Linked DNA regions of Homo sapiens: regions 1 and 2 are each linked to region 3. Evidence: fine-mapped expression QTL. A gene starts in region 3. Each other region holds a variant in brackets. All regions are shown on one strand. Distances are between the middles of the regions.

Region 1 (8,000 bases), 110 kb before region 3:
CCCTCGGACATCGACGCTCGTCGTTCTCAGGCCTTTGGGCTCAGACTGGGACTCACGCCATCAGGCCCCTTGGGTCTTGGGCCTTCGGATCAGGACTGGAGCTGCACTACCAGCCTTCCTGACCTCCAGCTTCACAGCAGCTGGTTTCAGGACTTCTCAGCCCCCAGGATCGTGTGAGCCAGTCCCTGGTATTAAATCTTCCTATCTATCCATATGCTATCAGCGCTGCTGTTCTGGAGAACCCTGACTAATACAATATTGGAAAGGAGCATGCATCTCCCCTGGGATGGCCCCATTCAGGCACGCCCTGCTCCCACGCCCAGCACCACTGACCGCTGCCAGCAGAGGCGCTGTGGAGACAAGAGTGGTAGGGGGCAAGGGACGGGGTGGGTGTGGAGCAAAGACTATTCCCCTAAGGAAGGCAGGCCCCCTGGGACTGAGGGAGAGCAGCCAGTCAGCCAAGGCCAGGAGAACGTGCAGGGGCAGAGCCCACGCACAGGCCCGGAGAGCGGCCATGGCCACACAGGGGACCAAAGAGCGGAGGCCTGTCGGACACAGGGCCAAGGAGCTGGCCTCGCCTGGGGCAGTGGGAGTGCAGGGTCAGGCTGGTGTTTGAGAGATGCTTCAGGCTGCAAAGAGGATACTGGGTGGAGGGAAGGCAGGACCGCGGGAGGGGGGCGGCCCCAAGGAGTCTTCTAACCAGGCCAGGTGCACGATGGCAGGAAGGCCTGGGCAGGAGGCCACAGGGATGGACACAGCCAGAGAGGACACAGCCAGAACTGTTTAAAAGGCTGATCAAGGCTGCCTGGGTGCAGGGGTGAGGCAGGGAAGAGAGAAACCATCTCTGTCCTTTCTGCCAGGAGACACAGAAAGGGCTGGCCTGAAGAACGGGGACAATGGGGGAGGCTGGCCACCGGGGTCTGGACGCACAGTGGCCAGCTACAGAGGGGAAGGCAGGGGATGCCAGGGCTGGCGTCTGGGCAAGGCTGAGCTTAAACCCTTGGTGTGGCCTTCAGCAAGTCGCTGCCTGCCCCGAGTCTCCCTCCCCACCCACCTGGGGAAAGGGGAGGCTGAGAGGCACGTGGTTATCTGAGCCACCACCACCCCATTTCTGTTTCCCACAGAACCCCCGCCCGGCCTGCTAGACCCCCTTCTGCCACCTTCCTCTGGCCTCGGGATGCCCTGGCTGTACGAGGAGAGGCTCCCTCCGCCCTCAAACAGTTGCCAGCGCCTTTCTTCCCCAGCAGGTAACTGGCACACTCCACACTCTGCACAACGATGCCAAGATGCAGCCCACAAAGCTGGGACCCACACCCCAGACACACAGCAATCCACTGGCCAGGCGGACAAGCCCAAAATCAGCCACTGCCCACAAGCAGGGTGGGACCATCACACTGCCAGGAACCTTCTTGGAAGAGCCAGTGCTTGTGTTCTGGGTGACACGTTCGGCTCTGGGCTCAAAAGTTACCCCACTGCCTCCATGAATCCTCAACCACCCAATGAGGTCAATGTTACTATGCCCCTTGTCAAATGATGAAACTGAGGGTCAGAGTGGTCACCTGCACACATCAGCTAGATGGTCTGATGCAAGCTCTTAAAGGGAAAGCACCCAGAAGGAAAGGCCTCAGCCTCCCGACTGAGCCTCACCCCAGAACCCCCCTCTCATGGCCTGGTCATCCACTGCACGTTCCCAGTCTGCTAATGGGGACAGGTGACAGTAGCCATCACCTGGAGGGGCTGATGGGTTTCCAGTGGCTTCACTGGCCTCCCTAATTAATGGCCATTTTAATGGGAAGGGGACTAATAACTGTATCTCTAACACTACGGCAATAACTTTCCAGTGTCTACCCTTATCTCTGAAGCGATGACTTAGTAACTCGGTTATTAAGTGCAAGCGTTAACACAGGACAGGAAGGTGCGTGAATCTCCTCTGCGACGTCAACTCCACACCTGCTCCTGCTCTGAACTCCCGCAGGAGTGCCTGGAAGGGCCTGGGAAAGCACTTGGCCCCCCGACACCCCCCACTATTTCTCCCCTAGGCTGTCTGACGGTGAAGGAGGGTGTGGGGCCCACCCAGGCCCTTAGGCTCAGCAGGCGAAGTCTCTTTGCCAGTCTCAGCGTAGGGCTGAGCTCAGCACTCTCCGCCGGCCTGCGTCTCACAGATGCTCCGGGTGTACCACGGGGCAGGCACCTCTGCTGACATGTGGCAGCCAGGGGAGGCTCAGAGGCCAGGGACAGGTTGCTGGCACCTCTGCGGCCGTAGGAGCCACACAAGGAAGGCCTCACACGAACCACACGCACTACAGAGCCAACTGCGACCCAAGCACGATCGAGGCTGTGTGTTTCTGAAAGGATCTGACCGAACTGAGCACTAAGATTGTTCAGAATCTGGCCAACGCAGCTCCCCATCCATCCCCAGCCAGGTGGCCCATGGTGAGTGAGGCAGAGTCTTGGTTTCCTCAGCTGTGAGATGGGGGCAGCGGCACCCGCAAGAGTAAGGGAGACAACACACTGCCCACGGCTGCCCCGCTGCAGTCACCATCATCGTTGCTGCCCCTCCTGCAGATGCAAGCCCCCACCTCCACCACCGCCAAGTCCTCTGTGCATGTCTGTCACAGGACAGAGCTTAACCTTTGAGAGGCCATCCCTGCTGACCCCACCTGCCGCCCGTCTCAGGAGGAGGATTCCCAGGAAGTCACAACCGCAGGGGGATCCCCCAAGCAGTGGCCACGTCCCCGCCACCCACACCAGGGGGTCCCGATCCAGCCAGTGGGTTTCCAATGGGTGTGCAAAGCTGTGGGCAGTGGGGGCAGGGGCCAGGGACAGCAGCTGAGCACTCGGAGTGGAAGCGCCCTCGGCCCGGGCAGCCTGGCCTCCTTTGCACATATGCCAGGCTCCTCCGCAGGGGCAGAAACCTTTTCCCCAGGGTCGGGTCGCCCCATTCGAGAGATCAACAAATCCAGCCTTTGACTCCATGGAGCAGGAGCATGGTGGGGCAGGGGCAGGGAGGTGTCTCCTCAGGATCCCCCCGTTCCCCAGGCATCATCCGCCCCCATCCCAGGCATCCTGTGACATAGTCTTCCAGAGGGGACCGGGCCGGGCTTGTGCTGCTGAACCTGGCTCTGGACCCCGTCTCAGCTGCAGACTCGCAGCAGTGCCGGAGCTCTCTGCGCCCCAGGCCCTCCTCTGTAACGAGGCCCTCTGGGGGCTCTTGCTTCCTCACTCAGGTGTGCAATACACTTTGAGCAGCTGCTGCGTACCAAGCACTGTGCTAGGGTGACCTCTGGAGCTCCAAGGAACCAGCAGGGTGTGATCAATGCCGCAGGGTAAAGAACAGAGCAGCTGGGAAGCAGGGGAGTCCAGCAGAGTCCCTAATCAAGCAAAGCAAGGGGCAGGAGATGTCCAGGAATCAGAGAAGGCCCTCTGGAGGGGCTGCTGTCACCTTGAGGCCTGCAGGATGGACAAGTGTGTGTCAGAGGCTCACCATAAATGTGGGCAAGCCTCCTATAAGAAGGCATCGATCAGTAGGTGGCCCCGGGGCACTGCCACAGCCTTGAGCACCTGACATTACAGACCCACAGGGCAACCAAGTGCACATCTGAGTCCTCTGCCAAATGCAAATCTAAGCAACAAGCCGCACACACCAGG[A/G]CGAACAGCACTGCTGGCTCAGATGAACCACCAAGAACCTGCTCTCCCTTCCAAAGCAGAACCTATCCGAGAATCCCTACCGCCTTGCGAGCTGCAAGTCCGATCTGTGCAATGTGAGCCCCTGCAGGAAAAAAGTCTAAAGTGATTTTTCCTCCCCGGTGCTTTGTGTTTATGGAAACAGATGGAAACCGGCCGCAGACGAAGCTCTGGCATCCAGATTTGCTTCCAAGCGGTTTTACCTTGATGACTGCTTAATCCTGGCCCATCAAGGGACTTCCCAAAATGGCCACTTTATGGATTTTTCTTTTCCTGTCTAAGGGTAGGATTCAAAAATGCACTTTTCCCAGAAAAGATTTTCTAAACCATGAGAGTGAGGACACGGATAAGGACAAGGCCATCTGGAAGTAGAGGAGAAAGAAGAGACGCTGCATGGGGAAGACAGGCCAAGGAAGGACCCACCTGGACCCACCTGCGCCGTCTGCAGGAAGAGGGGCTAGGCATCCCTCCACCAGCCCCTTGCCCACTTGGCACTCACGAGCAGCCCTGGACACCAGGGTACAAGGTGTGTCCCCAAGAAGCTCTGTGTGCCCCACCGGAGGAAAGAGCCGGCAGGCAGCACGGGGAGGGAGAGTGGGCAGGAAGCAGCTGAGCTGAGAGGGAGCCTCTGAACCAGGCAGGTGGTGAGGGACCTGTCAGCCAGGCTCAGGGACTCATGAGATGATAAAGGCGGGCAGGGAAGGACAATGGCCTTAGGGGCAGCCATGGGGAACTCCCAGGTCAGAAAAGGCTGGATCTGACCGATGGTTTTATAAAAGATGCCTTTTACACGAAGCACCAGGGACAGCTTCTCCAGTAGGAATCTTGTATATGAAGAAGGGGTGGGTGCGGGGGGCACTGCCAATGCCACCGCCCAGGGGACCAAGAGATGGCCAAGTGAATGTGATGTGCAGTCCCTGATGGGTCTTGGGACAGAGGACATAAAGGGGAAACTGAGGAAGCCAGAGTCACTTCAGTTAGTGACAATGTGTCCACACTGGTTCATTCATTGTAACCAAAGCACCAACTACTGTGAGGTATGGATGGGGGACCCGGGTGTGGAATACAATCTTCTTTTGCACTAGCTTCTCAATTTTGCTAAGTCTAAAACTGCTCTAAAATATCTAGGTAAAGCAGGGGCTGCCCCTTTGGCAGGTCAGGTGGGCAGCAGGTCAGCTTCTGCGGTCGGCCCTCCAGGACACTGGCCGTGGCTCAGGATGGAGGCAGGTGAACTGCAAGGATCCCTGGGCATGAGCCTAGGTGCTGCCTTCGGTGGCTACAGCACAGTCCCCCCACTGTCAGGTGCTCCCGGGGGCAGCAACACCCCCCTCCATACAGGGGCAGGTTCAGCAAGGGGCCAGCAGCCCAGAGCTGGGGGCCATGGCCCACCCACGTCCCAGAGAGGCTGGGCAGGGAGAGAGGCCCTGCTGGCACAGGGCCCGAGGTGGTGGAGCTAGGACTGGCCTTCAGGCTGCTGGGCTTCCCACCATACGACCCGGAGAACTTGTCCCCAGAAAAGCTGCCTTGGAGCCATGGGCTCCAGACACAGAGAGATGCGGCCTTCCCGCAGGCATGATGCTATCTGCAGATAGCGGAGCGCAGACGTGGGACAAGGCCCTCTGGAATGTGTCTGGACTTGCCCCACAAGGTTCCTCCCAGTGAGACGGGGCTTGTGAACAGGACTGAGAAGGAGGAGCGCCCAGCTCTCCTGCATCCCATCAGGGGCCTGGGTGACAGGAGGGGAGGCCCTGCATGAAGGCTGCAAAGGAGTCTCCAAGGCAAGCTCTGACGGATTCCCAGGCAGCTCGAGCCTCCAGCAGAGGCAGCAGGTGGAGACGAGGAACTGACGAGGAACACAGTCCACAGCTGGGAACACAAGGAAGGGGGAAGGTGCAGAGAAAGGCCTGAGATCCATGGTGGGCCTGGCAGCCAGCCACTGGAAACCGCCGAGGTCCCAGACGTCCTTGAGGGTGGCCTACAAGTGGCCGGGAACTTTGAGAGGCCCTCTCATGTGTCTGATACCAAATGTATAATTTAATATTCTATATTTTCAGCCCAGACAGGAATTAATTATTTAATGTCCTATCAAAACCAACTCCATCCTTCATACTACTCCAGGCAGCGTGTGGGGGCGGAAGAGTTCAGTGGCCCCGGCTGGCATCACGGCAACACTGGGGAGGGCGCAGATCAGACACGCAGCAAGTACGTGCTGAGAACCTGCCAGGGCGCCTGGCACAGGATCCCAGCATGACGCCTCCTGCTTGCCAGGTGCCCAGCGAGTGTGCGGGGCTACAAAGGAGGGCGTCAAGGTTTCAACCTAGTCTCCACTGACTCTCCAGAAGGTTCCTCTCCCAAGAGATACAGTGCCGAAAACAAAAGAGGCAAGAGGCAGCCATCCCCAGATAGCTGTGTGGCAGGCCCCAGGCTGTACGGGACACAGTGGACAGACAGGCCCAGCCATGCCCTGCAGAGCTCTCGGAGATTCCAGGGCAGGAAGCAGACTGTCAATAAACAGAAAGCAAGGCAAAGAACATGCTGGGTCCAGACTGAACCCTGCAGTGAAGCAGGTGAAGCACGCAGGCCGCCAAGGGCACAGACCCTGTCCGCTCAGCCTTCACAGCCCCAAAGGGGCGGCCCTGCTGTGCCTGGCCCGAACATGCTGCCGTCACAGCCAGCCGACATCTGTACGGGGCTGGAGAGCATCCCCTACGGTTCATGTCCTTCCTGGAACCTCAGAATGCCACCTTCTTTGGAAATAGGATCACAGCGGATGTCATGAGTGACGATGAGGTCACCCTGGAGTAAGGTGGGCCCTTAATCCACTGTGACCAGGGCCCTCAAAAGAAGAGAAAAGACATAGGGAGAAAGGGGAGGCCATGTGAAGTCAGATCCCCACCCCCGCGACCTCTGGAAGGAGCGTGGCCCTGCCGACAACACCTTGAGTTTGGAATTCTGGCCTCCAGGAGAGGGCAGAATAAATCCCCCTTGTTTTGCGGCACCAGGTCCGTGATACTTGGCTATGGCAGAGAGTGGACGCCAGAAAAAGGATAAATGTCACAAACACAGCGCTCAGCCCTTCAGAGCAGACAGACTCAGGGATACAAATGTCATAAGGTGACCCCTGGGGCCCCTGAACCCCTGCAGCAGAGGCAGCCAGCCACTGAGACAGGACCCCCAGGGAGCAGGGGGCGACAGCTGAGAGGCCCAGGAGGACAAGAGGGACTCTGCCATGCCAAGAAGTCAGGGACGGTGTGCTGTGACTGCAGGGACAGGGGTTCCACCTTCCCCAGAGGCCTCTGGCACCCTGGGTTCGGGATGTGGGCCCCACACCCACCCCATGCCAGGCTTGGCCCCCTAATGGCCCTCTTTCCCAGGGAACAACCTCCCCAGGCTCCATCCCTATGTCCCCACCCCCTGCTGCTCTCTCTGGATCCTTCCCTCCTAATTGGCATGGAAAGTCAAGTCCCTGAGCCTGCAAAAGACTCGGCTGTCCCCACACACCACTCCTGGAGCAGATGGGCCCTTCATCATTTGCTCATTTCACGTTCCCCTAATCATGCGAAGAGCCCTGGTAATTGACAACGATTCTCTGCACAAATGGCGGACCCACAGAGGAGCGAAGGCGCAGAGACCCATCCGTTGAGACAGCCTCCCTGCCGGGGTGTGCCAAGTGAGTGTGGGGCTGACGGGTGTGAGCCACAGTGGGCAGTCAGGGCCAGGGAGAGGAACAGAGCCGAGTCAGCTGCTGACCTGCTGCAGCAGCTCAGCCACTTAAAAATTCGTCGGAACATGTTGAAACAATGAGGGGATAGAACAACCACTCACCCTGCAGACTCCCAAGTCATCCCCAGCCACGGCAGGCAGACAGCCCAGCAGAGACTCCCAAGTCATCCCCAGCCACGGCAGGCAGGCGGCCCAGCAGCAGGCAGGTTTCAGCTCGGCCGGAGCAGGCCCTCAGGCACTGGACCTGGGGAGGCTTCCGGTCACCTGTGCAATGCCACCAGCAGCTTCTTGCATGCTTCCCATGACAGGGAGCTCACTACCCAAGGTGGCGGACGAGAAGCCCTCCCGGGATCCAGTGCCACTGTGAGGCTCAAGTACACCCCAAAACTCACACTTGAGGTCCACAGGTGACTAGCAACTTTGCTTAAATTGATTCTAGTAGGCCCGGTGTGGTGGCTTATACCTGTAATCCCAGCACTTTGGGAGGCTGAGGCAGGCAGATCACAAGGTCAGGAGATCAAGACCATCTTGATCAATATGGTGAAACCCCGTCTCTACTAAAATACAAAAAAATTAGCTGGGCACGGTGGCGC
Region 2 (8,000 bases), 210 kb before region 3:
TTTTCCAAATTTTCTACGGAAAATCAGTAATTAATAATCCGGCGGGGGCGGGGCGGGGGAGGAACAGAAAGATTACAAAAAAAGAAAACTTGGAAGGAAATATACCGAAACATTGCCTTTCATCATTTCTAGGTAAGTTCACGGGTGATACTTTCTTTAAAATTTCATTTCTTTTTTTTTCCTCCAAATTTTTGATAAGTAAACATTACCTTTAGAATCAGAGAAAGCAAAAAAAGATTCTAAGTAGCTGCAGCCATCGTCTGGGGACATGCGACCACGAGAGGGCAGTATTGATGGGCACAGCTGAAAAGCTGCGTTCAGGCCACAGGCTGCCTGCGGAATCCTCCAGCACTAACTCCAGGGGCTGCGGGATCCTGTGCACAGCTAGGGGGCTGCATTGGGCCTGTGATGGGGACAAGGGGGTCTGGGCTGACCTTCTGGCCCTCTCCCCAGGTTAGGGTACTGGGCTGGCACTCACAGTAAATGGTGAATTAACCATTGATCTAAAATCACAGCTCAAAATGTATTCTGGGCAATGGCGTCTCTGGGTGACAATCTCTGGGTGACAAGCTGGCCTGACTTGTTTTTCTGCCTTAAGACACCTTCAGGAGGCTCAAGGAGACAAGACCCAGAGACTCGGCCTGGGGCCACCGGGGGCTCTTTGTTGAATAGAAGCTCTGCTAATAAGTGTAGACAAATTGCTGAAAGTTTCAAGCCTCAGTTTCTGGGGCTGATGATGGAGGTGACATCCTGATGTCTGAAACCTCTCAGGAGAGAACTGTCTCAGGCTTTGCACTGCTGTCCAGCTGCCCTGAGCAGGGCACAACCCCAAAGGTATGCCCCCGACCCAAGGTGCTTCAGAGGAGCCTCCAGGGCGCATCCCTGCCTCTGCCCACTGCCAGCCTGGCTCAATCCTCTCCCCTCCCTGAGCCTCAAGCTTCCCTAAATGGGCATGAACAGAAGGGAACCACTGTAAGTGCCATGTGTGTATGCGTGCATGTGTGTGTGTGTCTGAACCATTTACTAACATGGCTATAGCTACTGATGGCCAGGCCTCACCCGCCGGGAGAACCCAGGGTGACCGGTGTTTCTGTGATGAGAAACCTCCATGCACCTGTTGAGAATGTTCTGTGCCGTGTTTGGGGGTGGAGATTCTAGAAGCTTCCTCCTGGAGTGGGGCAGGGGATGCAGGAGATGGGGAGGGGTCCTCAAGTACCCATTAGGAGAGAGGGCTTGGAATGGAATTCATCCCGGCTGTGTCTCCTGTTAAGTGTGTGACGTGCGGCAGGCGTCTGGTGTCTGCTCTGGGGCACGTGAGCACTGGTGCCCTCATCTGGTCGCTGCCCCGTGGGAGATGGTGCCCGAGGCCCGTACCCAGGTGGTAGGGGGCAGAAGTGAGCAGGCGTGGCCAGGGACTGGGGTGGGGGGGTGAGGGGGGTACTCACTGAACTTGCAGGGAGGTATCACTTCCAGGCACTCCTTGTGTGCCCCGACGCCACACTTGGTACACATGTATCCCTGGTAGAAGGTGCCCCTGCACAGGGGAGGGCAGGAGGTGAGGTCGAGGCTGGGGTCGGCTCCTCATGCCTCTCTGCCAAGGTCAAGGCCCTTGTCCCCACCCAGGCTCACCTGGCTGGCTGTCTCCCAGCACACACATCCCTCATAGCCCTGAGTATCCAGGACCCTCCCTTACCAGGCAGCCTGACACCTGCTTTCCCCTACCTCCACCAGCCTGCCTCCCTGCCCCACACAGCATCCCGGGCACCCAGGAACAATCACCTCCCGGCTAGATCTGAAACTCTAAGGGCTTGGCTGGGCCGTTTTTTTTTTTTTTTTTTTTGGAGACAGGGTCTCACTCTGTCACCCAGGCTGGAGTGCAGTGGCGACATCACAGCTCACTGGAGGCTCAATCTCCAGGACTTATTCAATTCTCCCACATCAGCCTCCCGAGTAGCTGGGGCCACAGGAGCAGGCCAACACGCCTGGCTGACTTTGGTATTTTTTGTACAGACAGAGTTTTGCCACGTTGCCAGGCTGGTCCTGAACTACTGGGCTCAAGCGATTCGCCTGCCTCAGCCTCCCAAAGTGCTGAGACTTGAGCCACCATGCCTGGCACGGGCCTGACTCTTGTGGGGTATACTCCCTTAACCCCTCAGGGCCTCCCACAGGGAACATGGGACAGATAGAACACTAAGCTCTCTCAGGGGCCTGGGCTGGGCGTGGAGCGAGGTGAGGGCTGTAGCAGGGGGTTTCCCACACCTGAGGAACATTTTGCAGGCTTTGCAGTTGGTGGTCTTGTCAAACGTGTACATCTGGAAACTGTGGTGGTTGGCATTGGCTTTGTCTGGCTTGATGTTTGACCTGGCAGGAGGGAAAGAGAGCAGATGCTACACCCACTGGATTCCCCGAGCCCCACCATGTGGCCATCCTGGGAACCAGCTGGGCTCCGGACCCAGGCTGTGCAGAATCCGAGAGGGCCTGGACTCCAAGCCTGGCTCTGCCCGCAACATGGGGCAGACTCAGGGCCCAGACTCCCTGCTCGTAGAAGGCAGGTCAGAGAAGAAGCTTTAACACTGCTGCACTGGCCTGAGAGAACCTTCCAGGTGGGGACGGTGGTCTAAGGTCCTGACTGGGCTTGGATGTGGGCAGGTGTGGGTATTTGTTAAAACTCAGAAAACATATACTTAAGATTTGTTTGCCTCATTGGATATAAGCTTGAAATTTCAGAAGCTAAACAAATATTGGGCCCCCTGAGGTACTCAGGGGGGCTGCACTGGTGTGCAATTCACTTTGACACAGACCCGCTGTTGGATGGCTGGGGTGGGGTGGGGTGACGCGGATGGCGGCAGCGTGGTGAGAAGACGGCTATTCACCATCACGTCGCTTCAGCTTCCATGAACGCTTGAACTTTTGCACAATAGGATGTTGGGGAGAAAATTACAGGCCATGGAAAGCGAGTGGCCGAAGAGAAGATGCCCCAGGCCTCCCCCACAGAGCCTGGGTGCAAACCAGCTGGCTGCATCTATTCTCACGAGCCAGGCCCTGGCCCTGCTGTGTCCAATGGTTCCCTTTCGATCCTCCCAAAAAGGCCAGAACACAGGCCTTCCCCTCTCCATTTCACCAGAAGAAACGGTCAGAGAGGCGAGTGCACCTGCCTGCAGGCCCCAGCTCACCTGCCCGCAGAGCTCAAGCACAGACAACCCTGCTGGCCCTCCAGGGTCCGTGTTCCGGGAACCCGTTCATCATCTTTCTCTGTTTCACATATCTAGGATATGAGTCCTCTTGGATCTCATGGAAAAATAGTTCTGTGGCTTCAAAAACAGGTGACAAGCCGCCAGCCCGTAAGACCCTGAAGACTGGGGTCACCAGGAATCCTCTGGCATCATGGCCACTCCCAGCCGGTCACTGCTCTGTGGGCCGGGCGTGCCAGGCTCAGCCTCAAGGGTGGGATGGCTCATTCCAGCAGGACAGCGGAGCCTGCCTGGGACAGGCTGTGGCAGAGGGAGAGCCCTCTCACTCTGGACTGATTGTTAAAGAGGATGTCACTGCTTGAGGCTGGCGTCCCAGGGGTGATGGAGGTTGTCTGTGTCCCTGACGTTCCAACTTTGCCTCCCACCGCCCCTGGTCTGAGAGGAACCACAGACACAATCCACCTGGGCTTCCACCCCCCATACAACTCATCTGCCAGGGACCTGGGGGCTGCCGCCCTGGAACTCACATGGCCATCTCAAACTGCTCCATCCACTTCCTCTTCATATCTTCTGTTTTGCAGAAAAACTGGAAGCCCTGCTTTCCTTGAAGGTGAATTAGGTAGAAGCCGTAGGACCACTGCAGGGGGGAGAGGGGCCATGCTTGCAATAGACACGGCTTCAGACATCCTGGCACATGTCCACGTGTACTCTCGCCTGTGCAGCATGTGCACGTGTGTATATGCATATGTGCACAGGTGCCTGTGCCTGTGTGAACACATGTTCTCACGTGTGTACCTGCTCTCTTGCCCATGCTGTACGTGCACACGTGCCTCTGTATGCATGCATGTATAGCTGTGTGCCCATACCCTCACGTGAGAATACATATGCGCTTGTGCCTTCACCTCTGCATGCATACTAGTGTGCTCCTGCGTGCATGGGTGTGCATCTGTGCCTGCACGCGTGTCTATGCGTGTGCACCTGTGCATGAGTGTGCCCAGTGCTCCTGTGAGCATGTGCACACACACACTTGTATCTGTCCCTGCAGGTACACACATGTACTAACACGTATGATGCACATGCACCCATGCTGTGTGAGCTCTCCTGTGGGTGCTCTCCTGTGTGTGCTCTCCTGTGGGTGCTCTCCTGTGGGTGCACACACACATGCCTGGGCAGGTCTGCACTCCTGCCTGCGCCCATGTGCGAGGATGCTCCACCGAGTGCATATGTAGATGCATGTTAAGCGGGGGCAGGATCCCAG[G/A]AAGGATGAGCGCAGGGCCCCACCCAGGGCCCCTCCACGAGGCCTGACCACCCACTTTCACTTCCTAAATGTGATGCTAAAAAAACCTCACTTCTCTGAAGTAGAACAGTAACAACAAAAAGGCAGGGAACAGCCATGGGCCTGGGGCACCCCCCGTGAAGCCATCCCCGACTGAGCAACCCACAACTGCCCCCTTCCCTGCCTCCCCTTCGGCCACCCCACAGGCCTCGCCATCTCTCCGAGCTCTCGGACAAAGGGCTTTCAAAGTGGTCCAGAAAAAAGAGTTTGGCAAATAGGAGCCTACTGGGTTAGAAAAGATGGCGGGAAAGAGGAACGAAGGGAGGGATGGAGAGGGGAAGCGTGGAGCGGGGATGGGAGGAGGAAAGAAACAAGGAAAGAGAGAGGAAAAGGGGAGAAAGAGGGAGGGAGGAGGGAGAGAACACAGAAAAACAAAAAGGATGATGGAGAGCTGAAGAGAGACCAAGAAACCCCAGCCTCTGACCCCGAGCTCCAGGGACTGAGGATCACGGAGTTTTCCTTTCACACTGTCTTAGCGGGCAAGCCTTTCATCATGAATACAAATCATTTCATCATCGGGAAAGGGAGTGGAGGACGAAGGACCAAGAAAACCCTGAGCCCAGCCCCTCAGGCCCCTGGGTCCCCTGGCTCCGGGCAGAAGTGCCAGCACCAGGCTGGGATGATTGAGGCAGGTGGGAGGACCTGGGCGCTAGGTGCTTACCATTTTCCCGTGAGACTAGGAAGCATGGAGAGGAGAGGAAGGGGAAGACGGTCAGTGAGAGGCTAAGCCCGGCCCTGTGGTGGGTGCCGCAGTGTGGAGGCGCCAGGAGCCCTGGCAGGTGGAACACCCCCCAGTGCCCAGGCTGGGGGTGGGGTGATCAGTGGGGAAAGGAATTTCTTCCCAGAGTGTTGGGTGCTGGTGGCAGGACTGCCTCATGGGCCCCAGTTACTTGTTTTGGGCATGAGGGCAGGGAGGGTCACCCTCAACAGCTCATCCAGTCTGCACTTGCTGGGTCTGGACGAGGGCTACACTGCCAGCCCTGGAGGCCAGGGACTGGACTTTCAGAACAAGGGCTCCTGACCCCCGCCCCCCACCCCACCAGGGCTGCACACGGTAGCTGCTCAAGTGCCATGGGCAGAAGCCTCAGCTGAAGCAGGACTGAACCAGACAGCCAGCCAGCAATAGCCCTATAGCCATGGTCCTGCCCCACAGCAGCTTCGGCCCCGTCCCTGTAGCCCTGGCCCCACCCGCTGGCAGCCACAGGCCCACCTCTGCAGTCCTGGCCCCGCCCCAGCAGCCACAGGCCCCACCCCTGCAGCCCTGGCCCCACCCCAGCAGCCACAGGCCCCAGCCAGCTACATGTAGAGTCTCGGACAAGCCACAGCCAGACCTACCCACAGCCCTCCTCCAAGCACCGCAGGGTGGGACGGGAGAGGAAAGCCTGCTTGCTACAAGGGACAACATGGGCTAGAGTCAGGCTGGCCAGATGGAAAGCCAAGGTTGAAAGTCCCACCCTCACTAGAGGCCTTGGGGTGGCCTCTCCCCTCTGCCTCAGTCGCCTCACTGGGGAGTGGGATTCTGGTCTTGCCCACCTTTCTGGGGGGCGCTGGGCCCGGCGAGGAGCAGGCCTGCTATGAGCAGTGGTCACGACGGCGAGGCAGTGACTCAGAGAGGAGCCTTCCTGCAGAGCGGAGACGCCCACCCCAACCCACCCGGCCAGCATCAGCGGCTGACTTCGAGTCCCCTTCCCCTGGGGTCTGGAACCCAGTGCCTCTCTCCAGGCCACCCCCACGTTCCTGGGTAGCAGGGGGGACCCGGAAGGCCCCACCTTCTTGACGTCCTTGTTGTTCATGGGGTCGTCGGTCATCTTGTGGAACAGCAGCTCGATGATCTCCTTGAGCTCGTAGCTGTAGCCCTTCCGCTTGCAGACGATGACCACCTTGTCAAACAGGAACAAGTACCTGGGCCAGGCAGCGCAGCGGGGGATCAGCACCCCAGCACTGTGTGCTCTGCTCCGAGGAGGCGGCAGGAGCTGAGCCTGAGGCTCTGGCACGCGGCTCCCTCTCCGGGCGAGCCCTGCCCTCACCTGGCTCACCAGGCTAATGCTGAGCCTCGGTCAGGTCTCGGCTGTTCCCACACTGCTTCTCCAGGAAGCCTTCCTTGGCTCCCTACCCCCGTGACTGAGGCTGTGCCAGGAGCCCTTCAAGGGGCTCCTGCATCCCCCACGCTGGCCTCCCATGCAGCACTGACCCCCGACGGCTACTCCCAGTTGATCCCGCGCTGGACTGGGAGCCTCAAGAGGGTGGGACCCAGATCTGCTGTGACCCCTGCCCCAGCACACAGTAGGTGCACAAGGAGGGCCCTGGACAAGCCTGGGCCACCGTGCGCCTGGACACTCTCCGGCAGTCATTTGGCAAAGAGCCCATCCGACCACTCTGGGCCTGTCTTGGGTTCCTGGAGGCTGAGCATTGGCAGTGAGGGGCCTGGCCCTCATCTTTGGCTGCCCCAGCCCAGCCTGGTGCCCGCCACAGGCACAAAAGCCCCACTGCTGTGGCGCCCGCTCGCTGACGAGAAGGAAGGAAGCAATTAAAACTGAACAACACAAAGCCACCGCCAGGCAGCTCTTTCCACAGGAAGGCCTGGCTTCCAGAGCCACTTAGGAGTGGCTCCCTGGGAGGGAGAGCCAGACCCTGGCGGGACGCCACCCAGCCCACAACACGCGCCCTGCTCACCTGTCCTGCTTGGTGTGGTTGACTATGGACCGGACTTTCAGTTCCCCGTCAATCTTTGGTCTTCCAAATTCCTCCAGTTTCACTTGCTGGGAAGAAGGAGAGGGGCCGTCAGCCGGGGCTGGAGCAGCCCCAGTTCTCCTGACCGCACGGGCAGGGCAGACTGTCGTGCACCCAAGGGAACTCCCCACAGGCAGCAGAGGCGGGACGAAGGGAAACAGCCCCTGTGGCTCCCAGCTGGTGCTCAGGATGGACGAGGGAGGGTGCAGAAGACCGGGAAGGGACTGGGCCTGGCAGCTTCTCTCCCTTTCCTGGCCAGCCCTGCCAAGGGGCTCCCTTCAGCTCTGGGGACAAAGGGCGATTGACGGTGCCGGTTGTGTTCACAGAGGCCGCCGCTGTGTGGAGCCCCAAGCGGGACCCGGTCGGAAAAGCCAGAAGCCCAAGCCCCACGTTCAGGAGAGAACAAACAGCGCCTATCTGCTGCAGGGCGGGTGGGGCCGGGGTCCTGCCAAGGGTGAGGCTTCGACTCAGACCCCTGTGTGGTTCGCTGAGGTTCATTTTCGTTGTCTGTCTGGTTTTGTCTCTGTGACTCTTCTGATTCAGAGAGAGCTTCTCTTGACATGTTCCCTGCGTGGCTTTCAAAGTGTCCACACAGACAGGAAAAGGTGGAGGAAAATGCTTCAAGACACGAACAGGGCCCTGCCTGGGAGGTGCTCGAGGCACAGGCTCAGTGTCTCCTTCCAAGGTCTCAGCCCCAGAGGCTGCAAGGACAGCTTTGGTGTCACATAGTCCCAGTCAACTTG
Region 3 (10,005 bases):
TCACCAGCCAGGGATCACAGGCACCCACCCCCCACCCCTGCCACCCCATGAAAAGAGACACACACCGTGACAACCCAAAACCCAAGAATGAGGCCAGGGACATCCCTCAGAAAGTCCACAAGAGAGTAAGCCAGCTTAGGAAGGCCTGCAGTCATCATTTATTTAAACAGTCCTGGGAGGGAGACTGCAATCCCTATGTTGGTTTTGCCACTTACTCCTCTGGGCAGGAGTGGTGGGGTGATGGGGAGTCACTCAAGCTCTCCGGAACCTTGACGGCCTCACCTATTAAACACAGGCAGCAACCCCCACCTAGGCTTGTGCTTAGGCCACAGCAGGGCAGGTAAGAAAGGGCAGATGTGATTTTTCTATGACCCAACCACCAAGGGTGGAGATGACTTCTTCCCTCTCCCATCCCCACCCCTTAAGAAACGTGAGTTTCAGCCGGACGCGGGGGCTCACGTCTGTAATCCCAGCACTTTGGGAGGCTGAGGCGAGCAGATCATGAGGTCAGGAGTTCGAGACCACCCTGGCCAACATAGTGAAACCCCGTCTCTACTAAAAATACAAAAAAGAGCTGGGTGTGGGTGGGGCACTGTGGCTCACGCCTGTAATCCCACCACTTTGGGAGGCCGAGGCGGGCAGATCACAAGGTCAGGAGTTTGAGATCAGCCTGGCCAACATAGTGAAACGCCGCCTCTACTAAAAATACAAAAAATAGCTGGGCGTGGGCCAGGCACGGTGGCTCAAGCCTGTAATCCCAACACTTAGGGAGGCCTAGGCGGGTGGATCACAAGGACAGGAGTTCGAGCCCAGCCTGGCCAACACGGTAAAACCCCGTCTCTACTAAAAATATAGGCTGGGTGCAGTGGCTCACGCCTGCAATCCCAACACTTTGGGAGGCCGAGGTGGGTGGATCACCTGAGGTCAGGAGTTCAAGACCAGCCTGACCAACATAGAGAAACCCCGTCTCTACTAAAAATACAAAATTAGCTGGGCATGGTGGCGCATGCCTGTCATCCCAGCCGACTTGGGAGGCTGACGCAGGAGAATCGCTTGAACCCGGGAGGTGGATGTTGTGGTGAGCTGAGATAGCGCCATTGCACTCCAGCCTGGGCAACAAGAGCAAAACTCCATCTCAAAAAAAAAAAAAAACAAAAAATACAAAAAATTAGCCGGGCATGGTGGCAGGCGCCTGTAATCCCAGCTACTCGGGAGGATGAGGCAGGAGAATTGCTTGAACCCAGGAAGTGGAGGTTGCAGTGAGCCGGGACCGTGCCACCGCACTCCAGCCTGGGCAATAGAGCGAGACTCTATCTCAAAAAAAAAAAAAAAAAAAGCTGGGCGTGGTGGAGCGTGCCGGTAGTCCCAGCTACTCAGGAGGCTGAGGCAGCAGAATCGCCTGAACCCAGGAGGTGGAGGTTGCAGTGAGCTGAGATTGCGCCACCGCACTCCAGCCTGGGCGACAGAGCAAGACTCCATCTCCAAAAAGAAAAAAAAAAGTGAGTTTCCCAGAAAACAAACACCAGCCACACAGAGAAACGAAGTCTTTCTCCCAACCCCTGTGTGCAGCCAGATGCAGTAAAGTGGTTTCTCCACGTTGAATGAACAGGCGGGGCTGTCACAGCCAATGTGAGGGTTAAGGGAGCATCTGCAGCCGTCCCCGTGCAGGCAACAGCCGTACAAAGGTGGCCCACCCTCCACGGGACAGAGGAGTGGATGGCAAGATCAGCCTCAGCGACACAGGGCACTACGTGCCACAGTCCAGGTGACGGTCATTTCCTGGGCACTGTGCGAAGGGTGTGCCTTCTGTGCCTGCCCTTAGCAAATCCTCACAGCATGGCTACGAGGGGACTGCTATGACTGTTCTCATGACAGAGATGGGGAAACTGAGGCTCTGGAGGTCGTTGCCTACCTGGGAGGGGACAGTGCCAGGATTCAATCAGAGCGGAGAGCCACACAGACACACACCCATCTGGTCCTCCTACCATCCAGGCCCCTACACGCCCTCCACGAGTCCGGCAGCAGGGCCCCTAAACACCCCTCTACCGGCCCAGCAGCGGGACCCCTAGACACCCGTCCACCCCCCAGCAGCAGGGCTCAAGGGGCCTCTGTCAGGGTTCGTATTGCTGCCTGGCCAATGGCTCCAGAGACCCCAGGAAGTCTCTGGCTTGAACTTCCAGTGCAGGAGCTGAGCCAAGCCACCTGCCACAGCCACGGCCCCCTCCTCTTCCCATCTTCCCAAACCACAGCTGGGGAGGGGCAGCCCCCGGACCCAGCGAGTCCACCAGGCAAGGCTGGGCTCCTCCCAAGCCTCCTCTGTGCGGACCCAGCTGCCCTGCCTCTGCCCTGAGCCCCAGCCTGCAAGCAGCAGGGAATCCTGCCCGAGCAAGTCAGCCTGGGCAGCCCCTGGAACTCATATCAAAGGCAGCCACCTTGGTTCGAGGCCCAGCCCTGCTCCCCAACAGCTACCCTTCTCCTCAGTTTCTCCAGCCATAAAATGGAGTCCAGACTTCCCAGTCCCCGTGGGGCTCTGAGAACAGATCCGGGGAAGCCCTCTGCAGCAGTGACCGCCACCCCCGCCACCTGCACCTGACCACTGACATCCTGCGGGAAGAGGCGCTGGCTCCCAGGGAGGCCTCTGAGGGCTCCTGCTAAGCCGGTCCAGGCAGTGCTGGGTAATCATTACCCAGTGGGAAGGCGGCCCCTTCCCCTCTGGGCTTGCCTTTGTCAGCGCCCCCCAACCCGGCAGAGAAAGGCCCGGTCTCCTAGGAAACGCAGTCACCGCCAAAGGGCAGAGGCCTCGCTGCCCAGCCTGGAATCGCTGGTGACTCACTCTCCCTCCTTCCCAGGAACCACGTCCTAAGTCCCACTGGTGAATGGTCCCTCTCCACATGGAGTTGCCACTGCGCGCGGTGAGGGGCTGCTGAGCTGGCTGGAAGACCGCACCTCCTCGGCGCTGGGTGGACCCGGCTGCCACCCGCTCTGCCTCCCCCGACCTCTTCTAAGCTGCTCCCGGTAAGGATTCCGCGACCCCCGGAGAACAGGACGGAAGCCTCGATTCTCTCAAGTCTTAGCCAAGTTCCCTCTTAAGAGGCCAAGAAAAGCAGCTTCGTTCGGCTGGGCAGGCATTTTCCTGCCTGGCCCTGCGGCCGCACGCGTGCCTCCGCCGCGACAAAGGCCACACTCAGCGCCCGAAGGAGGGGTGGGGGTGTTGGGAAAGCGATGGGGGCCAGGACTGGGGCCAAGTGGCCCTGGGGATCCTCGAGGCGGCTCGACCCGGGAGCCAGGACTGGCGCCAAGTGGCCCGGGTCCGGGTCCGGGAAGAGGCGGAGGCCGGCGAGGGGGCGGTGCCCGGGGCCAACCCAGCTCCCTCCGGCCCCGAGGGCTCCCGCCCCGCGCCCCTCCCGGGCCCTCCAGCCGCGCCCCGGGCCGGCGCAGCGACCGCGCCCGCTCTTCCACCGGCGTCCGGCCAGGAGGCGCGAGGCCCAAGGATGCGACCCACGACGCGCACACCCGGCTCGGCAGGCTCCCTGGGAAATGAGGGGCCACTCGCAGGGCCCCGCAGAGCGAGCGCAGCGCCGGAGCCTCCCCCATCCCAGGCCGCGCAGACCGCGGAACCGGCGCACCAGAGCAGTGCCCGCGGGCGGCGGCGGCGCGACCCAGGCTGAGGGGACTTTGGCCAACTTCGCGCCTCCTGAGGTCGCGTCTCGGAGGCCCGGGGCGCACCCTCCAGCCGCCCGCCCGCGTCCCGGAGCCCGGCCGCCCCAGCCAGGGCGCCTGGGCCGCCGCCGCTGCGACCTCCGCGTTCAGTCCGCGCGTCGGGCAGCGCGAACGCCGCCTCCCCGGGGCCCTCCCGCCCGCCGGGCGCTCACCTGGGACATCTGCGGCCGGAAGTTGATGTCCTTGAGGTCGATGGAGCCGGGGGAGAGGTTGTGCAGCAGCTGGCACAGAAGGACCCCGTCGCGCAGCGCCTGCGCCAGGTCGAAGACCACGGCCGAGGGCCACACCACCCGGTGGTTGGGCGGCAGGACCTTGCAATCGATGAGCCAGCGGCCGCACTGCCGCCACTGCTCCATGGCGCCCGCGGGCCCGACCGGCTCAGGGCAGTGCTCGAGCCAAAGTGCAGCGGCCGCGGGGCATCCCGCCCGCGCGCGCGCGGGGCTCAGGGCCGGGGCGGGGCTTCGCGCGGGCTGCCCCAGGTCCCCCGCTGCGCCGCCGTGCGTCCCCTCCTCTTCCTCCTCCTACTCCTCGGGCTCCTCTCGGGCCGCCGCTCCCGCCCACGTGCGGCCGCGGGGCGGGCAACGGGCAGCGCGCCGGATCTCCCCGCTTCACACACGCAAGTGCCTGCGGGCCCCGGGCCGGGCTCCACGCAGCCAGTCGCCGCAGCGCTCCCCAATCCGCGCCGCCGGGCGCCGCATTCTGCGCTCGGGGCGCCCCGCGGCCGCCGCGGCTCCTGCCCCGCCCGAGACAAAGGCCCGGCGGGGTCGCTCGCTCCGCGCGTCCCGGGCCTGGGCCGCCCGCGTCGCCGCCGCTTTGTTCGCCCCACCCGCAGTCCCCACGCCCGGCGCTGCGACTCGACGACTCGGCGGCTCGGCGGCTCCACGGCTCCGGGGCGCTGGGGGCGCAGGGGGCGCGGCCACGGCCGGGCGGGGCAGGGGCGGGGCCGGAGCACTCGCCTGGCACCTCCCCGTGTCCCAAGCGCCGCCCCCGCCCCCCCACTTCCTGCCCCGCTACCGCCCGCGAAAGTTGCGGTGGGCGGGGGTTGCGGCGCAGGCCCAGGTCCGGCCGACTTTCTCCAAGGGCGCTCGGACTTTGGGGAGCCCTTCTCCCTGGGGGAGCGACCTCGCCCGTGGAGTGATGGCCGGGCGTCCCCCCGGGTGCCTTTGGTCCTCCGTGGAGGTCAGGAGGTGGTCCCTGTCGCGCTGGGCGCCCTCGCATGGCCGTTCGGTAACGACAGACTCGGGAGAGGGCACCGGGCTGGGCCGAAGCTTACTGAGCCCCCTTGGCCCATCAAGCCGCCCCGGCGGGATACCCGAGGCTGAGGCTGAAGGCACACGGGCCCAGGACTCCCAGAGCCCTCTTCCTGTCCTCCGCCCTGGCCGGGGGCCCATAGGAAGACCCCCGACCCTGCATAAAGGCCAGGATTCCCCAGCTTTTGGCCAAAGTCCTGGCCACTCGCAGCTGCCCAGCGGGCAGTTCCTGGCGTCCAGGGCGGAATGCGTGACATGAGTGAGGGCAGGAAGGTGCTCTCCGGCCCAGGGTCGCAGCCGGCCCCGGTGCTGATCCGCCCTGATCTCCCTTCTAGGCCACACCCTGGGTGGTGGGGGCGCGGTCTGTCCAGCTGGCAACGTGTGACGGTAGGAGGGGCTTCAAGGACAAACAGATTCTGCAACTGAAATTATATGGATCCTGGCTCAGCTGCCGGGAACCGCGGGTTTTCACTGCTGATTCACTGGGGGACACCAGGCAAGTCCAAGCCCTTCTCTGAGACTGGCTCAGCCCGGAGGCTGGGGTGCGGTGTCTGAGGGCTCCCACCCTGGACTCCGGTGGAATCCTGGGCCTGTATGAGCTGGGGCTGCACTGCAGCCCCCGGACCCCTTACCCCGTGGCTTCCCTGCGCAGGGGCCGGAACGGGGATGCGAGCGCAGAGAGGGTCCCCTGGGCCCAGGGCCTCCGATGGGGGTCCTGTCCTGGAAATTGGTCTCTGCAGAGTCAGACTCACCCCTTCTCCACTGAGGTGGAAGCAGGGGGTCCCAGCTTAGGGTCTGGCCCGTAGAGAGAGGTCAGGAAGGAGCTGGCCCCTGCAGCAGTAAACTCAGGCCAGGTGGCTGGTGAGGCGGGGGCTCAGGTCTCTTGCCCTTCCCCGAGGAAGCAGCAGTGGGCACCTTTAGGGCAAGGGGGAGAGCTTTCCTCACCGAAGCAAGATGGGGCAGCAGGTGGACCCATCAGCATCTCCCTAAGAAATCAGAAAGCCAGGAGTGAAACCTGAGCGGGGCCCTCCAGCCCCATCTGAGAGCCTACACTGATCCCTCCTCCTGCAAAGCCTCATCCCCTCCTCTCTAGAGCGGGGAGACCCGGCTCCCACTGGACTTGCTTGTGAAGAATGGACGGATAAATTACCCAGAGGCTTCCCACTGTGCTGGGACAGAAAGGGCTCAGAGAGGAAGAAGAGCTACCCACTCTCCCAACCCCTCGCCTGGACCGCCGGCGCATTGATGCACTAAATGTCTCTTTCCCCAGGTGGCTCCCTCAGCAAGAAGGGGGCCTCTGTCCTCACGGTCCTGGGCCTGCCTGCTCTGGCCAAGAGGACCAGCCAGGTCTGGGACCCAGGCAGCCGCCCGCCAACAATGCCATGGGTACCTGCTGCCCCCTGGTGGTGCTGTCACCACGGGGCACCTGGCTGCACCCAGGAGGGGCTGCACAGAAAATCTGGGGTTGACCGTTGAGAAGACCCAACTCAGGAGACACAGACTTCACCACAGTGGCCCTGAGCCACTCAGGCCTCCCTGGTTCCCAGGTCCTGATCGGCATAGGACATTCACCGGCCCTGTGCACCTCCCAGAATCCTTGGAGGCTCTGAGGGCAGGATGGATGTGAATCAAAGAACAAAAGTTTGGTGGGGCCAGGTACAGCAGCTCAAGCCTGTAGTCCCAGCACTTTGGGAGGCTCAGGCAGGCAGATGGCTTGAGTCCAGGAGTTCAAGACCAGCCTGGGCAACACAGTGGGTCCCTGTCTCAAAAATAAAATAAAAGGTAAAGAAAATGGGGCAGGAGCTCCCTTTGTAACCTTTAGTGTGAGTGTAATGATGAACAGGTTGAGACTGTGGACTCAAGGCACATGCCAGGAAGACTAATAGAGAGGACGCTGTTTGGGAAAATCCTACCACCATCCATGTCCACTTGGACTCAGGGCTGTCTGCCAGGACTGCCTGCTGCACACCTCCAGGGGGCGAGAGTCCCATCACACCTTGGAGATGGGCTCCAGGGGGAGCTGCTTACACAGACTGCCAGTGAGCAGCTGCCAGTCCAGCCGAGCAGATTAAACCAGGGAGCAAGAAGTGCCAGCATGGGCCACATACCCCAAGTATGGGGGAGGGTCACAGGTGGCGGAGGAGGGCACCAGGCAGGGCACACCCGGGGAGGGAGCAGCAAGGCTTCCAGGAGAAACTGAGGTTTGAGTTGACAACCAGAGATTGATCATGGTTGCAGTGACTAGGAGAGGGTGACATGGAGGATGGAGAGCTTGGACAGGAGTTGATTTTTAAACCACAAAGGAATTCAGTGTTGCCATGATCTCAGGCATTGAACAATAAACCGCAGTGTCCTCCTGAGCTCCTGTCTCATTCTCCCCGGCAGCCATGTGGGCAGCGAGTCCCAGCAGTCCACCTTCCTGTTCTGTCCAGCATCTGCCCCCTCCTGGCCCACCCCCACCAAGCCCCAGGCCCCCTCTCCTTGGACCCGCTTCCACCCTTCCACCTGTCCTCCGCAGCCAGCAAGGACCCAGTCGGCCCTCAGTGACACCCTGTCTCTCTTCTGCGCGGATGGGCACCTCGGGGCTCCCGCCTCACTGGAGGTAAAATCTAGCAAATCACTGTAATTGTAATTTTTAAATCCAATATATTCTTTCATGGAAGCCACAGATGCGTTAAACTGATCCAAAGACAGCTTATAAAAGGCAATGTAATCGGAGGCTGGACGTGGTGGCTCATGCCTGTAATCCCAGCACTTTGGGAGGCTGAGGCGGGTGGATCCCTTGAGTCCAGGAGTTCAAGACCAGCCTAGGCAACAAGGTGAAACGCTGTCTCCACCAAAATACAAAAATTAGCCTGGCATGGTGGTGCACGCCTATAGTCCCAGCTACTTGGGAGGCTGAGGTGGGAGGATCACTTGAGCCCAGGAGGCAGAGGTTGCATCGAGTCGAGATCGTACCACTGCACTCCAGCCTGGGTGACAAAGTGAGACCCCATCTCAAAAAAAATAAAAAATAAAAGGCAATATAATCTTATTTATTGACTTGTGGCATATTTTAACACTATCGCTATGTGAATTAACGTTACACTACGTAAGATTGCAGTTACGTCGCACATTGTCACTTTCAAGCCGTTATATTTTAACAGCATTCATAGTTGCAGTAACCAATCCTGTGTCTTGAGTCTGAGTGGCCGGCCTAGGTGATGGTCACCTCCTTTAAACCACAAGCCACTCCATCACTTCTAGTCACTGTTATTGTACTGAGTGGTCCAACATAAAAACCAGCTCACCAAGCACATTGGTGAGCTGCCCAAGGTCACCCAGCAACACAGGAAAAAGCCAAGTCCAAACGCCAGGCCTTATTGACACCTGTGTGCACCCCTAAATAGAGGCTGCTGCTGAAAGGGCTTTCCACGCCTAGAACTTTCTGCTTTCCCTTAATGCACTGATGTGGGTGGGGAGGTGACGAGGGAGGGAAAATGATCTGATGTCTAGAACACGTGGATACGGAGTCAGCAACAGAGCGCAGTGCCTGGAGCCCACAGGCACACCCCCCCGCCCCGCCACTGTGGTACCGAAATGAGCCCTTAGTACAGGCAGGAGTAGCAAGGCTAAGAAACGGGAGCCGAAGGGTCCGACACTGACTTAAAGGAGGGAAGGGCAGCTGGAAGTATATCCACGCATCCTGGAGGTCCTGGAAACCTGGTGACTCTTGGATCCTCGGGGTCCCAGAGAGGAGACCTTTGGAGGAAGGAGTGGGTAGACAGGTGGCTGCCCTTATGTGGGCAGCATGGCTGGGCTTCCCCTCTGGCTTCTCTGCCCAGTCACTCACACCACGAGTGATGCTCCACCTACAACTCAGCACGTCCTTCCTGCACCCAGGCCCTGAGCCAGGACCACCCACACCCTAGGAGGCGAGGACTGTCATCGTACTGTGCTACAGATGAGGTCGGCTCACATAGCTTGAGTGACTTGGCCAAGGTTATGCAACTGGCAGAGTTCAGATTCGAACTCAGGTCCACCTTCTCCTATGCCTCCAGCTGAGAGGTTTGCTTTTGTTTTCTACTGATAAATAATGATTTCAAGGGCAGTGGCACAGGACAATCTGAGTCCACGACCGGCCCAGCGCCCCTCCCCTGGGTTTCTGCAGAGCTGCCCTCATCAAATTGGTGTCCTCATTCTCTGGGCAGCCCCAGGGTCTGGTTTCTGAACAGGAATACATGTGTCCCTTAGCGCGTTACATGCCACAGTGGAAGGGCTTGAGAGTTTACCTCTCACTCAAGACTGTTTCTTTCCATACAGGCCCTCCCAGAGAACCTCCATACAGCCAGAGTGGGCACTGTCTCAGTCCAGTATTCCCCCAAAAAACACCAAGACCTGCTGCAAGGTCTCAGTACTTTTCATCAAAAGGTCCAAGGCTCAGGGGACCCTCATTCCACAGCCAGCATCCCAGGGATAGACTGAAGCTTCTTCAAAGGAGCTCCGCCCAAGGCTGGAGTCTGTCCATCATCCCTCCACCTGCCCCTCCATCCATCCCTCCTATATCTTGCTACCCACTCTTCCATCCATCCGTCTCTCAACCCATCCTTCCATCCATGCCACATTCCTCCACTCATCCCTCCATCCATCCCTCCTTCCATCCATCCCTCCCACATTCCTCCACCCATCCCTCCATCCATCCCTCTCACATTCCTCCACCCATCCCACATCCCTCCACCCATCCCTCCCTCCATCCATCCCACATCCCTCCACCCATCCCTCCCTCCATCCATCCCTCCCTCCATCCCTCCATCCATCCCTCCCTCCATCCATCTCTCCCTCCATCCATCCCACATCCCTCCACCCATCCCTCCACCCATCCCTCCACCCATCCCTCCACCCATCCCTCCTTCCATCCATCCCTCCATCCATCCATCTCTCCCTCCATCCATCCCACATCCCTCCACCCATCCCTCCTTCCAACCATCCCACATCCCTCCAGCCATCCCTCCACTCATCCCTCCCTCTACCCATCCCACATCCCTCCACCCATCCC

Evidence for each region. PIP is the estimated chance that this variant, and not a neighbour inherited with it, causes the effect.
Region 1: its variant is fine-mapped to the expression of VAV2 in monocytes (Quach 2016, PIP 0.95).
Region 2: its variant is fine-mapped to the expression of VAV2 in whole blood (TOPMed, PIP above 0.99). The same link has a PIP of 0.9 or more in blood mononuclear cells and monocytes.

The regions. Positions count from the first base shown.
Region 1 is chr9:133,876,006-133,884,005 of GRCh38, forward strand. The region is part of intron 2 of VAV2 (vav guanine nucleotide exchange factor 2); the gene reads right to left. Among named protein-coding and RNA genes, the nearest start is that of VAV2, 110 kb to the right of the region's middle. RefSeq lists enhancers at 1-663, 664-1,397, 6,538-7,271. The variant A/G (reference allele first, on the strand shown) is at 3,649.
Region 2 is chr9:133,782,058-133,790,057 of GRCh38, forward strand. VAV2 (vav guanine nucleotide exchange factor 2) reads right to left here. Exons shown (of 30, transcript NM_001134398.2): 14 at 7,201-7,286; 15 at 6,297-6,429; 16 at 5,189-5,203; 17 at 3,719-3,828; 18 at 2,260-2,361; 19 at 1,446-1,534. Among named protein-coding and RNA genes, the nearest start is that of SARDH, 48 kb to the left of the region's middle. RefSeq lists enhancers at 4,212-4,621, 4,893-5,445 and a silencer at 5,732-5,891. The variant G/A (reference allele first, on the strand shown) is at 4,450.
Region 3 is chr9:133,988,203-133,998,207 of GRCh38, forward strand. It overlaps VAV2 (vav guanine nucleotide exchange factor 2), which reads right to left and starts at 4,122. Exons shown (of 30, transcript NM_001134398.2): 1 at 3,873-4,122. The coding sequence starts at 4,076. RefSeq lists enhancers at 253-980, 981-1,708, 1,709-2,436, 2,437-3,164, 3,165-3,892 and 2 more and silencers at 3,275-3,714, 3,755-3,844, 4,115-4,264, 4,325-4,424, 4,525-4,834 and 1 more.